2 separate regions of the Homo sapiens genome follow, and region 1 is linked to region 2. The links come from fine-mapping of genetic effects on plasma protein levels. A gene starts in region 2. The other region holds a variant in brackets. All regions are shown on one strand. Distances are from middle to middle. Region 1 overlaps AHNAK2 (AHNAK nucleoprotein 2). Region 2 holds the start of AHNAK2 (AHNAK nucleoprotein 2).

Evidence for each region. PIP is the chance, under the fine-mapping model, that this variant and not a neighbour inherited with it causes the effect. Protein levels are from antibody-based Olink assays in UK Biobank. Linkage for the fine-mapping came from a reference panel and not from the study's own genotypes, which makes the PIPs less certain.
Region 1: its variant is fine-mapped to the plasma level of the AHNAK2 protein (UK Biobank, PIP above 0.99). The variant lies in the coding sequence of AHNAK2. If it changes the protein, the assay may bind it differently, which can mimic a change of level.

What each region holds. Positions count from the first base shown.
Region 1 is chr14:104,952,393-104,957,750 of GRCh38, reverse strand. It overlaps AHNAK2 (AHNAK nucleoprotein 2), which reads left to right. Exons shown (of 7, transcript NM_138420.4): 2 at 79-137; 3 at 243-341; 4 at 1,062-1,163; 5 at 2,118-2,268; 6 at 2,610-2,794; 7 at 2,952-5,358. Among named protein-coding and RNA genes, the nearest start is that of AHNAK2, 23 kb to the left of the region's middle. RefSeq lists a cis regulatory region at 638 and an enhancer at 554-723. The variant C/G (reference allele first, on the strand shown) is at 2,188.
Region 2 is chr14:104,976,363-104,981,720 of GRCh38, reverse strand. AHNAK2 (AHNAK nucleoprotein 2) reads left to right here and starts at 3,347. Exons shown (of 7, transcript NM_138420.4): 1 at 3,347-3,538. The coding sequence starts at 3,484. RefSeq lists a silencer at 3,204-3,363.

The DNA of each region.
Region 1 (5,358 bases), 24 kb after region 2:
CAGTCCTGGCTCCCTCCCCCGGGCCCCGATCTGCTCCCCCAGCCTGCTTGTCTCCACTGACAGCCACTCTCTCTGCAGTGTCCGGCCGTCAGCTGCAGCCCGGGGAGCCAGGTGCAGAAACGGAAGATGACCACTCTGTAAGTGAGAGCAGGAGGAAGTGTGTCCTCCTCATACCCTGCCCCCATTCTCCCTGGGCCCTGGGAGAACCGAGTGGCAAAAATAACTGGATTCTCTCCCGTCAGGTGACTGAAGGGCCTGCGGATGAGGGCATTCGACCACGGCCGCAGGGGTCTTCACCTGTCTACGAATACACGACTGAGGCTGCCGACTTTGGACTCCAGGTGAGCCTGCTGGGCAGAGCCCCACAGGCACCCAGGTCTCCTCCTGCATCGCCCTGTGTGGGCAACTCACGCATGTCTGTTCAACCTTGCTGCCCTGCCCCGCTGCCCACTGGGCAGTGCCCACTCAGATGTCCTCTCAGACTCCTCTGTGCCCTTGGGTCCCTCCCTGTGGCCGGCCAGGGCACAGTGGGATGGAGGTGCCCTGCAGCTCTTGTGAGCATGCGTATGGGCTGATGGGGACAGGCCTCATGTTACTGTGTTTGTGTTTCAGGGGCACAGGGTGTGTGCATCCCTGCACCTGTGTAACACACTCATGCTGTCTTTGGGGACAGGGCCCCATGGCTACCTCTGGAGACAAGGACTCGGGGAAGGGATCAGAGGAGGCATGTCTATGAAAGGATTCATTTTTGTACAATTTGAATTTCTTATCTCCCTCCATACAAAACTCCAGTTGCTGTGGGGCTTCCCTATGGGCGCTGTGGGCTGTAGGGTGGGTGCTGTGGGCTGTAGGCTGGGCCCTGTCGGGAAGCAGGAAGGCCGAGAGTTGCCTTTTCTCTGTGGATGTGCCTGGAGGAACTCGGCTGCCTCTGCACACAGCTGTGTGTTGGAAGTTCTGGGCCCCTCTGAAGGGAGGGCTCCTGGTCTGGCACCAGCCTACCTGTGCCCCTCCCTGTCCCTGAGCTGGGGCAGGTGCCTAACTCCCAACACTTGTGGCTGCAGGAAGACGCCCCCGGCAGGCAAGGTTCTGCTGGGAGACGGAGATCCTGGTGGAAGCGAGATTCAGGGGACTCACGGACATTTTTCAGGATGAGTCGTCCAGAGGTGGGTACAGCAGGAGCTGAGGGTCACAGAGGTGTGTCGGTCCTCAAGGGATCCAGCCAGAGAGTCCGAGGTCAGAGCAGGCAGGGGAGGAGCAAAGAGGCTGGCAGTGTGCCCCGTGCCCTGGGGAGGAGGGGTGTTCTTGTCCCCCTTGTCAGGCCTGGGGAAGGGCAGGGGCTCCAGAAGGCTACATCTGGTCCTGGCCCTCTCCACCCCTCCCTGGGGTGGAGTCTGATGCATAGCCAAGCTCCTGGCCAGGTAGACCTGGCTGTACAGACCTCGATTTTCTCCTCCGTGCAATGGGGCAGTGCTGGTGTCTGTTGCATATTCAAGCTGTGGGGCTGAAAAGGCCAGTCAGCACCCAGGCCATGGAACTATGGAAGGTGCTAGACTCTGCTAGCACCCAATGATGAGGGCACTCTGCCTCTTAAGCAACTAGTTTTTTTCCTTGGAGGCCCCAGCAGTCCAAGAGCTCTGCAGGACACAGGCCCCATCCTGTCCCAGGTCTCGCAGGCTGCACCCAATGTCCCGTATTTTCCTTGGCATTGCTGTGCTTCCTTGTCTTGAGCATCAGGTGCCTTGCACACAACTGGTGCTTCACGCGTTTGTGAAGAATGCATGAAGGAGCTGAAAAAGAGAAACTGGCCACAGGGAAAGCAGAATCCGTTCTGCGCTGCTCCTGGTGCCCTGCTGGGCCTGGTGGCATGGACAGGCTGTGCCTAAGTCCTGGCAGGTTGGGGTGGGGACAAGAGTTCTGGCAGGTTCCAGCTGGCTTCCTCCAGAGCTCAGAGACAGCTACCTGAGCCCACCTGGTGGGTACCCTACTCTGCTCTGTGTTGTCTGGGCTGATGGAAAGGATGGTGGGGTGCCCATCCTCTGGAGACACAGGCCCCAGCAGGGATGCTTATGGTGGGACTGGCACATGCTCACCATGGCCCTGATGTGCTTCTGCTCCAGGCTGTCCAGGAGGCAACAGAGGTGACGCTGAAGACAGAGGTGGAGGCAGGAGCCAGTGGCTACAGTGTCA[C/G]AGGTGGTGGGGACCAGGGGATCTTCGTCAAGCAAGTGCTGAAGGACTCCTCAGCCGCCAAGCTTTTTAACTTGAGAGAAGGTGCCATGGCAGTTCCATCCCTGGGGTCACCATTCTCCCCACCAGGATGGGAGGGACCTGGAGGGGGGTATTGAGGGGTAAGAACCACACCTGGAGCTTAGGATGACCTCCTCACGCCTCTGCTCAACAGCTTGAGGCTGGGATCACCCACTGCATCTAGTAAAATGGGGGACCCCATCCACCTTGCCTGTGCCTGAGGCACTCAGTGGGGGACTGGTGGGGCAGACTCAGTGGGATTCCCCCTATTCATGTCCCCGGGACCCTCCTCGCCAGCCAAGGCAAGACAGCAGACCCCGTCTCATTCACACACCCGGCCCTGGGGCTGCTCTTTCTTGGTCTAGGGGATCAGCTGCTCAGTACAACCGTGTTCTTTGAAAACATAAAATATGAAGATGCTCTCAAAATCCTTCAATATTCAGAGCCGTACAAGGTTCAGTTCAAAATCAGACGGCAGCTCCCTGCCCCACAGGATGAAGAGTGGGCTTCCAGCGATGCCCAGCACGGCCCACAGGGCAAGGAGAAGGAGGTGAGACCACTATGCCCGGGGGGCAGGGCCCCAGCTGGCTTCACTACCCTGCTGGCTGAGCCTGGGAGGGGATAGCACTCCCACTCCATCTGTCCCTGGGCCAGGGCCCCAGGCTTCTTGGACTGGCACCAACAGATTCCCTCTCCCTATGTTTCAGGACACGGATGTTGCTGATGGGTGCAGAGAGACCCCCACGAAAACTCTGGAAGGAGATGGGGACCAAGAGAGACTCATCTCCAAACCAAGGGTGGGGAGAGGCAGGCAGAGCCAGAGGGAGAGGCTCTCTTGGCCAAAATTTCAATCCATAAAGAGCAAGCGGGGGCCGGGACCCCAGAGGTCACACAGCTCGTCAGAGGCCTACGAACCTAGGGACGCACATGACGTGTCCCCTACAAGCACAGACACAGAGGCCCAGCTCACGGTGGAGCGCCAAGAGCAGAAGGCAGGGCCGGGCAGCCAGAGGAGGCGGAAGTTCCTCAACCTCAGATTCAGGACAGGCTCGGGACAGGGCCCTTCATCGACAGGACAGCCAGGCAGGGGGTTCCAGAGTGGGGTGGGCCGTGCTGGGGTCCTGGAAGAGTTGGGGCCCTGGGGTGATAGCCTCGAGGAGACTGGGGCTGCCACAGGCAGCAGGAGAGAGGAGAGGGCAGAACAGGATCGAGAAGTGATGCCTGCTCAGAGCATGCCATTGCCCACAGAGCTCGGTGACCCTAGACTTTGCGAGGGAACCCCTCAGGAAGGGGGACTCAGGGCAGCCAGGCTCCATGGAAAGACCCTGGAGGGGCAGGCACAGGAGACAGCAGTGGCCCAGAGGAAGCCCAGGGCCCAGCCAACTCCTGGAATGAGCCGGGAGGGTGAAGGCGAGGGACTGCAGAGCCTGGAAATCGGGATCGCCAGACTGTCCTTGAGAGACACAACCGAAGGAGGCACACAGATTGGCCCACCAGAAATTAGGGTGCGAGTACACGATTTAAAGACACCAAAATTTGCATTTTCCACAGAAAAAGAGCCAGAAAGAGAAAGGCGCCTTAGTACCCCACAGCGAGGGAAGAGACAGGATGCGTCCTCAAAAGCGGGTACTGGCCTGAAGGGTGAGGAGGTGGAAGGAGCCGGGTGGATGCCGGGCAGGGAACCAACCACACATGCAGAAGCACAGGGGGATGAAGGAGATGGAGAGGAAGGACTACAGAGGACAAGGATCACTGAGGAACAGGACAAGGGCAGGGAAGACACAGAAGGACAGATAAGAATGCCCAAGTTCAAGATACCCTCCTTAGGATGGTCGCCAAGCAAGCACACAAAGACAGGCAGAGAAAAAGCCACAGAAGACACAGAGCAGGGAAGGGAAGGAGAGGCCACAGCAACAGCTGATAGAAGAGAACAGAGACGCACAGAGGAAGGATTAAAAGACAAAGAAGACAGTGACTCAATGACAAACACAACAAAAATACAACTAATACACGATGAAAAACGCTTAAAAAAGGAACAAATTCTGACAGAAAAGGAAGTGGCCACCAAAGACAGCAAGTTCAAAATGCCCAAGTTCAAGATGCCATTGTTCGGGGCGTCAGCCCCAGGCAAGTCCATGGAGGCCTCGGTGGATGTGTCTGCGCCGAAGGTGGAGGCCGACGTGAGCCTCCTCTCCATGCAGGGGGACCTCAAGACCACTGACCTCAGCGTCCAGACCCCTTCCGCTGACCTGGAGGTCCAGGATGGCCAAGTGGATGTGAAACTTCCGGAGGGCCCCCTGCCCGAGGGAGCCAGCCTCAAAGGGCACCTGCCCAAGGTGCAGAGGCCCAGTTTGAAGATGCCCAAAGTGGACCTCAAGGGCCCCAAGCTGGACCTGAAAGGCCCCAAGGCGGAAGTGACAGCCCCCGATGTGAAGATGTCTCTGTCCAGCATGGAGGTGGACGTCCAGGCCCCGAGAGCAAAGCTGGATGGTGCGCGGCTGGAGGGGGACCTGTCCCTGGCCGACAAGGAGGTGACTGCCAAAGACAGCAAGTTCAAAATGCCCAAGTTCAAGATGCCATCATTCGGGGTGTCGGCCCCAGGCAAGTCCATGGAGGACTCGGTGGATGTGTCTGCGCCGAAGGTGGAGGCCGACGTGAGCCTCTCCTCCATGCAGGGGGACCTCAAGGCCACTGACCTCAGCATTCAGCCCCCTTCCGCTGACCTGGAGGTCCAGGCTGGCCAAGTGGATGTGAAACTTCCGGAGGGCCCTGTGCCCGAGGGAGCCGGCCCCAAAGTGCACCTGCCCAAAGTGGAGATGCCCAGTTTCAAGATGCCCAAAGTGGACCTCAAGGGCCCCCAGATAGATGTTAAGGGCCCCAAGCTGGACCTGAAAGGCCCCAAGGCGGAAGTGACAGCCCCCGATGGCGAGGTGTCTCTGCCCAGCATGGAGGTGGATGTCCAGGCCCAGAAGGCCAAGCTGGATGGTGCGTGGCTGGAGGGGGACCTGTCCCTGGCCGACAAGGACGTGACTGCCAAAGACAGCAAGTTCAAAATGCCCAAGTTCAAGATGCCGTCGTTCGGGGTATCGGCCCCAGGGAAGTCCATCAAGGCCT
Region 2 (5,358 bases):
GTACACTGCCCAAGTTGCAGGCCCTCCCAGAGGCATCTGGAGTGAGATAGAGCTCTCAGGACCCCAGGTTCCTTGAGGTGGGGAAGCTCTCTGGACAGACACCCCAAGGTGTCTTACTCATGACACTGTCAGCTTAACCCTCAAGCTAGGAGAAGACCCCCAGAAGGAGGGTGGGAGGGGCAGTCCCCAGCTCCCCGACAGTCACAACCAGACTGTGGCCCCAGCACTCAGGGCAGCGCAGAGCCAGAGGCCACTGCAGAGAGACACCAGCCCTCTGTCTCAGAGTGGGCAGGAGAAGGGAGGGACGGCCTCCGGGTGGAGCAGGCCCTGCCCAGACCCCATCCTGAATTCTGGGGCCACAGGGGAGCATGGCGCAGCTGCGTGTGTGTGTCTGTGCCCACCTTGGAAGTGGGCAGCCCCGTGCAGGGCAGAGGCAAAGTTCCTGGACCTGGGCAGCTGTGGTTGGTTCTGGGACCATTTCTTAGCCAGGGGAGGACAGGCCCAGTGGACACAGCTAGGGGAAGATCTCAGCCACCCCAGGCTGAGGGGCAGGACCAGGGCAAAGTCCTCCCAAGTGTGGGGTCCCCACACTCCCGTGACGCCACGCTGAACTTGCGCTCTCACTCGGCCCCCACCAAGATGGCCTGGAGGGTTCTCTCATCTTGCTGAAGGAAAACAGAGGCAGGGGCAGCAGGTAGTAGCCCAGGGACAGGGACATGTCGGGGGCAACCTCGGCTTCCCCACCCAGGGCTCCATCCTCACCCATCCCGCAAAGCCAAGGGGAGTCCCCGTAGCCCTGCGCAGATCACGCCAGACAATCAGGAGAGGGGCCACTTCATTTGGATGGGGACCCAGGAGGCCACATGACTTTGTCAAGGGCACACACCTAAAGGGGCTGAGGACACAAAGGTGGGTGAGTGCCCTGAGCGGCCCCTCGTTCCCAGGCCCTGCAGCCAGACTCAGACACAGAGGACTAGCGGGCGAAACCCCAGCAGACCAGGCAGAGGCATAGACACATCCAGGGACACACACAGAGGTGTATGCACCCAGGCACCCTAGTGGCTCTCTCCCTGTGTCCAGGGAGTGACTGACTCCAGGTGACCAGAGCAGGGTGGGCTCCTGGGGAGGGAGGTAAGTGCAGGGCCTCTGGACCCCAGGCAACACTGCTCAGCCCCGAAAAAAGGACACTGCGAGGGGGTGGGGTAAGACCTGCGCCAGGTCCCCACACGAGGGAGAAGGTTGTGCCCATCATGCCTGGGCTCACTGGCAGGAGGCTGCCAGGGCCTCTTCCCAGCAGTGGCTCTGGCGTCCATCTGACCTGCTGCTGGATGGCTGCCCGGTGGCTGCAGCGCGGCTAACGGGAACTGTCTAGGGTGAGTCATCGTGCCCGGGTGGCTCACCTGGGCCCGCTAGCTGTGCGTGGTCTCCAAATGAGCCCAGGAATGCGTGTGCCCCTGTGTGTATGTATACACGTGCATGGGTCTGTATCCTGGTGTGGGTGTTCATGCATGCAGGCCTGAGTGTATCAAATATCTCAGGTGGCCTGTGTCTGTGTCTTGGTGAGTTTGTGATCTTATCTATGAGTGTGTGTGTCTGCCTGGCCCTTCCGGTACAGCCTGGCCTCTTCCCACCCCAGGAAAAGGTGTCCGTGTGTGTGTGTGTGTGTGTGTGTGTATGACAGAGCATGTGTGTTTGTGTCTCTATGTGTATGTGTCTGTGTGTCTCTGTGTGTGTGTCTGTGTGTGTGTGAGTGTGCCTCTATGTGTACCTGTGTATCTCTGTGTCTGTGTCTCTGTCCATGTGTGTCTGTGTGTCTCTGTGTGTGTCTGTGTGTGCCTCTGTGTGTGTGTCTGTATGTGTACCTGTGTATCTGTGTGTCTGTGTCTCTGTCCGTGTGTGTCTGTGTGTCTCTGTGTCTTTATCTCTGTATGTATGTATGTGTGTGTGTATCCGTATGTGTGTCCGTGTGTGTGTGTGTCCCTGCATCTGACCCACACCCCTGGACATTGCCAGGCAGCTCCTCATGGAGGTGGCGGTCCTCTCCTGGGTCTCTTCCAGCCCTGCCTTCCCCGACAATCCCTGCAGAACTCCACTCCTTCTGGGGTATGCCCGGTTTGGGTCTACACCAGGCCAGGCGTCACCAAACTCTTAGAACTCCCTTGGGCCCCTGCCCTCCCTGTCCACACCCCCAGGTGTGCTGCCTCTGTGTGGTGCCCAAGCTAGATCCCAGGGAGGCTCCCACCCTCTGCACTCTGATCCTCACCAAGTCCCCTCTGCCTGCATATCCTTTCACTCCCTCCCATACCATGGCCGTGGTTCCACTGCTCCTGTTTCCAGCTGTGCCCCATGCCAACACCCCTAGCCACCTGCGCAGTCTTTCCTCAGCTCTCACCACGCTCAGAGACCCTGCTTGGAGCCTTAAGTGGCACCTCCTACCGACAGGAGCCCCCTCAGCCTCCTTGCTGCCCTGCCCCCGCCCACTGGGCCTGACTTTCAACCCCAGCCCTTTTGCCCCCATTCTCTGCACACACGCTACTCTGTCCCCTCTCTCCAGAACGCTTCCTACACTGCCTGGCACATGTCTCACCCCTAAGGTCCCAGCTTACACTGCCAGGAGCCCTCCAGGACCTCCGTTCCCCCGCCCCCAGGGCAGTGCCGCCCTGCAGAACGCCTCATCCTTACAGGCTTGCTTGTGTCTACGCCAGACCTGGAGCCCCTGGGGCAGGGCCAGTGGGGTGCTGGTTGCCGCTGTGTCCTAGGCCCTAGGCTCTTGACAAGAATCAGCAGAAAGGATGACTCTGGGCGGGGTTCTGGCTCCAGGACTGCCCCCAGCGCTGGGCGCTCCCGCACGCGGCGCCCACCCCGCAGCCCTGCCCGGGGCGCCCTGTTCCCGCTGCACGCTCTCAGCCGCGTCCTCGTATCTGCCACCCACCAGCCCCTGCAGAATTCTATCTTGTCCTTATGCTGCCAGATCACCTCCTGCGGTGCCCGCGACCCCTGTTGTCCCCGCAGGCTGCCCCCCACCCCAGCTTCTGACTAAAGTGTCTGTCTCCCCCGGAATGGGAGGTGAAGACAGCGGCAAGTCCAGGAGCCTCGGTGCGGGGATCCAGAGGTCGCTCCCTGGCGGGAGTCCAAAGTTAATTCTGCGGACGCGACAGGCGGGCCGGGGGCGCGGGGTGGGGCGGGGCCTGGCTGGGAGGGGCGGGGCCGCGGCGACGGCAGCCAATGGGCTGAATGAGGCCGACGGCACCGCCCGCGAGCGCGCTCCGCAGTGGCCCGGCAGGGCTGGGCGGAGCCGGGCGGGGTCCTAGCTGAGCGGCTGGGTAGCCTGGCGCGCGGTGTCCGCAGTCCGAGGTCGGCCGCCCGCGGCAGCGCAGGGCAGCGGGGCAGAGCGCGGCTCCCGCCCGCCCGCCCCGTGCGCCGGAGCCGGGACCAGCGACTGGACGCGACGGGCCGCCAGGCCCGCACCGCCTGGCCGCCGCGATGTGCGACTGCTTCCACATGGTGCTGCCCACCTGGCCCGGAACCCCCGGCAGCGGTGCGCCCCTCCCCGCCTGCAGCCCGCTCCCCTGGGGCGGGTGGGCTACGCGCGAGGGCGCGCGCCGGGGCGTGTCCAGGGGCGCGCAGTGCGGGCCTTGGGGGCGGGGGACTCGGAGACGCCTGCGGGACTCGCGCGTGGTTCTGGGCCTTCCCGGCCGCTGGAGTCTCTTCTCCCATGCCTCGCGTTCTACCTGTCCGTGGCTGTAGGTTCCTGCTCCTCTCCCGGCCTCTGAGACTGTCTCTGTCGCTCACTTTGTTTCTCGGTGGCTGACTCGTCTCTGTCGCTCACTCCCTCTGTCACTCGCGGTCCCTGTCTGTCTCTCCTTCTCGCTCCTGCCCCGCTCCTGGGACGCTGTCTGGTCGAGAGGCGGCCTCCTGGGAGGTGCTACCGCACTCTGGAGCAGGGCTGGTGTCTGCAAGGGGCGTGAAAGCCGGGGCCGCCGGGACCCGGGGCACCTGCACCAGGCTTGCCCTCTCACCTGCTTTGCGGGAGAGCAGCCAGGCTGGTCCAGGAGTCTGGGCTCTCCACTTTGGTCCGGGGCTTCCAGGCAGGGCTGGGCTGCGTCTACTGTGTGGCTGTGTGGTGGGGTCGCTGGCTAGGTGGAGGCTGTGGCAGGGCTAGGCCTGAGGTCTGGGGCCTGGTGAGGGGCCTGAATGGGGTCAAAGTCAGGCCACAGGGTCCCGCAGTGCTGGGCAAGGGAAAGTGGGTGCTACCTACTGGCATGCCCCCAGGGATGGTCAGTAGCCTCCCTCTGAGCCGCAGGCTACGGCATGTGTACCTGCTGCTCTTTGTGTGTCTGTCCCTGCACTGGGCCTGGTTCCGGGGCCTGGGTGTCTCAGCATCTTGGAGGGCAGGGCTGAGGGGGGCAGGGCAGTCCCTTGGGCGCTGGGTCTATGCTGCTGCAGCTGACCACACCCAGGGCATTGGCAGCCACTGGCCAGGGGGTTGGGCTGGCCGGCACTGGTGCAGGCTGGACCCCACTCCTTGGGGAAAACAGGTCAATGCTAATGGTGCCGACAATGCTGCAGGTGAGAGGGGTGCCCCTGGCCTGGGCATGCCCCCCAGCTGCAGCAGGCACTACCAAGGCCCCTCCTGTGGCCTGTCTGTCTGGTGCGCACTTAGGGTGGGAGGCTTGTCTGGGGGGCTCCAGAGCAGGGAGGCCCCTACAGCACCTGCTTCACGGTGTCGCAGATGGGAGCCCAAGGTGTTTGGGCACAGCAGCGGGAGGATGATGGCTCCGGTGGGCTGGAGGCCCCTGGCCCCCTCCTCTTTCACTATGACTGGCCCTGCCCACATGGCTGCAGGTCGACCTCCTCAGAGGGAGAAGGGCAGGGCCCCCAGGCATGGGACCACTACCCTGCCCCCAGCTTCCCTGCACAGCCTTTCTGCTCTGCTTCCTCCTCACTCACGGGCACCCAGAGACTCCCAAGCTGCAGGGTCCAGGACCATCTCATCCACCCCCTGCCTCCACAGAGGCTTGTGCTGGCTTCATGGTTCCCAGCCCGTCTGGGGCAGTCCCTCCCTGTGTCCAGCCTACGGAACCATCCGCTCTTAGGGAATAAGGTCAGTGGCTCTCGCTGGAGCTTTGGTAGGAGACTTGCAAGATCAGAGACCTTGGGAGTTCTGTCCAGCACACCGGTTCCCAGACCCTCCCCAACCCTGCGGCCCAGGAACGTGCATTCCTGACAAGCACCCTGCCAACTACTGCCTTTCCCAGCCTGGATTTGGTCCAGGCCTTTTCCACCTGCAGTTTCCTCTCAGCAGGCTGGAGATGGGCGGACTCTCCCCTGCTCTCGTCTTCCTGTCCAGTCCAAACC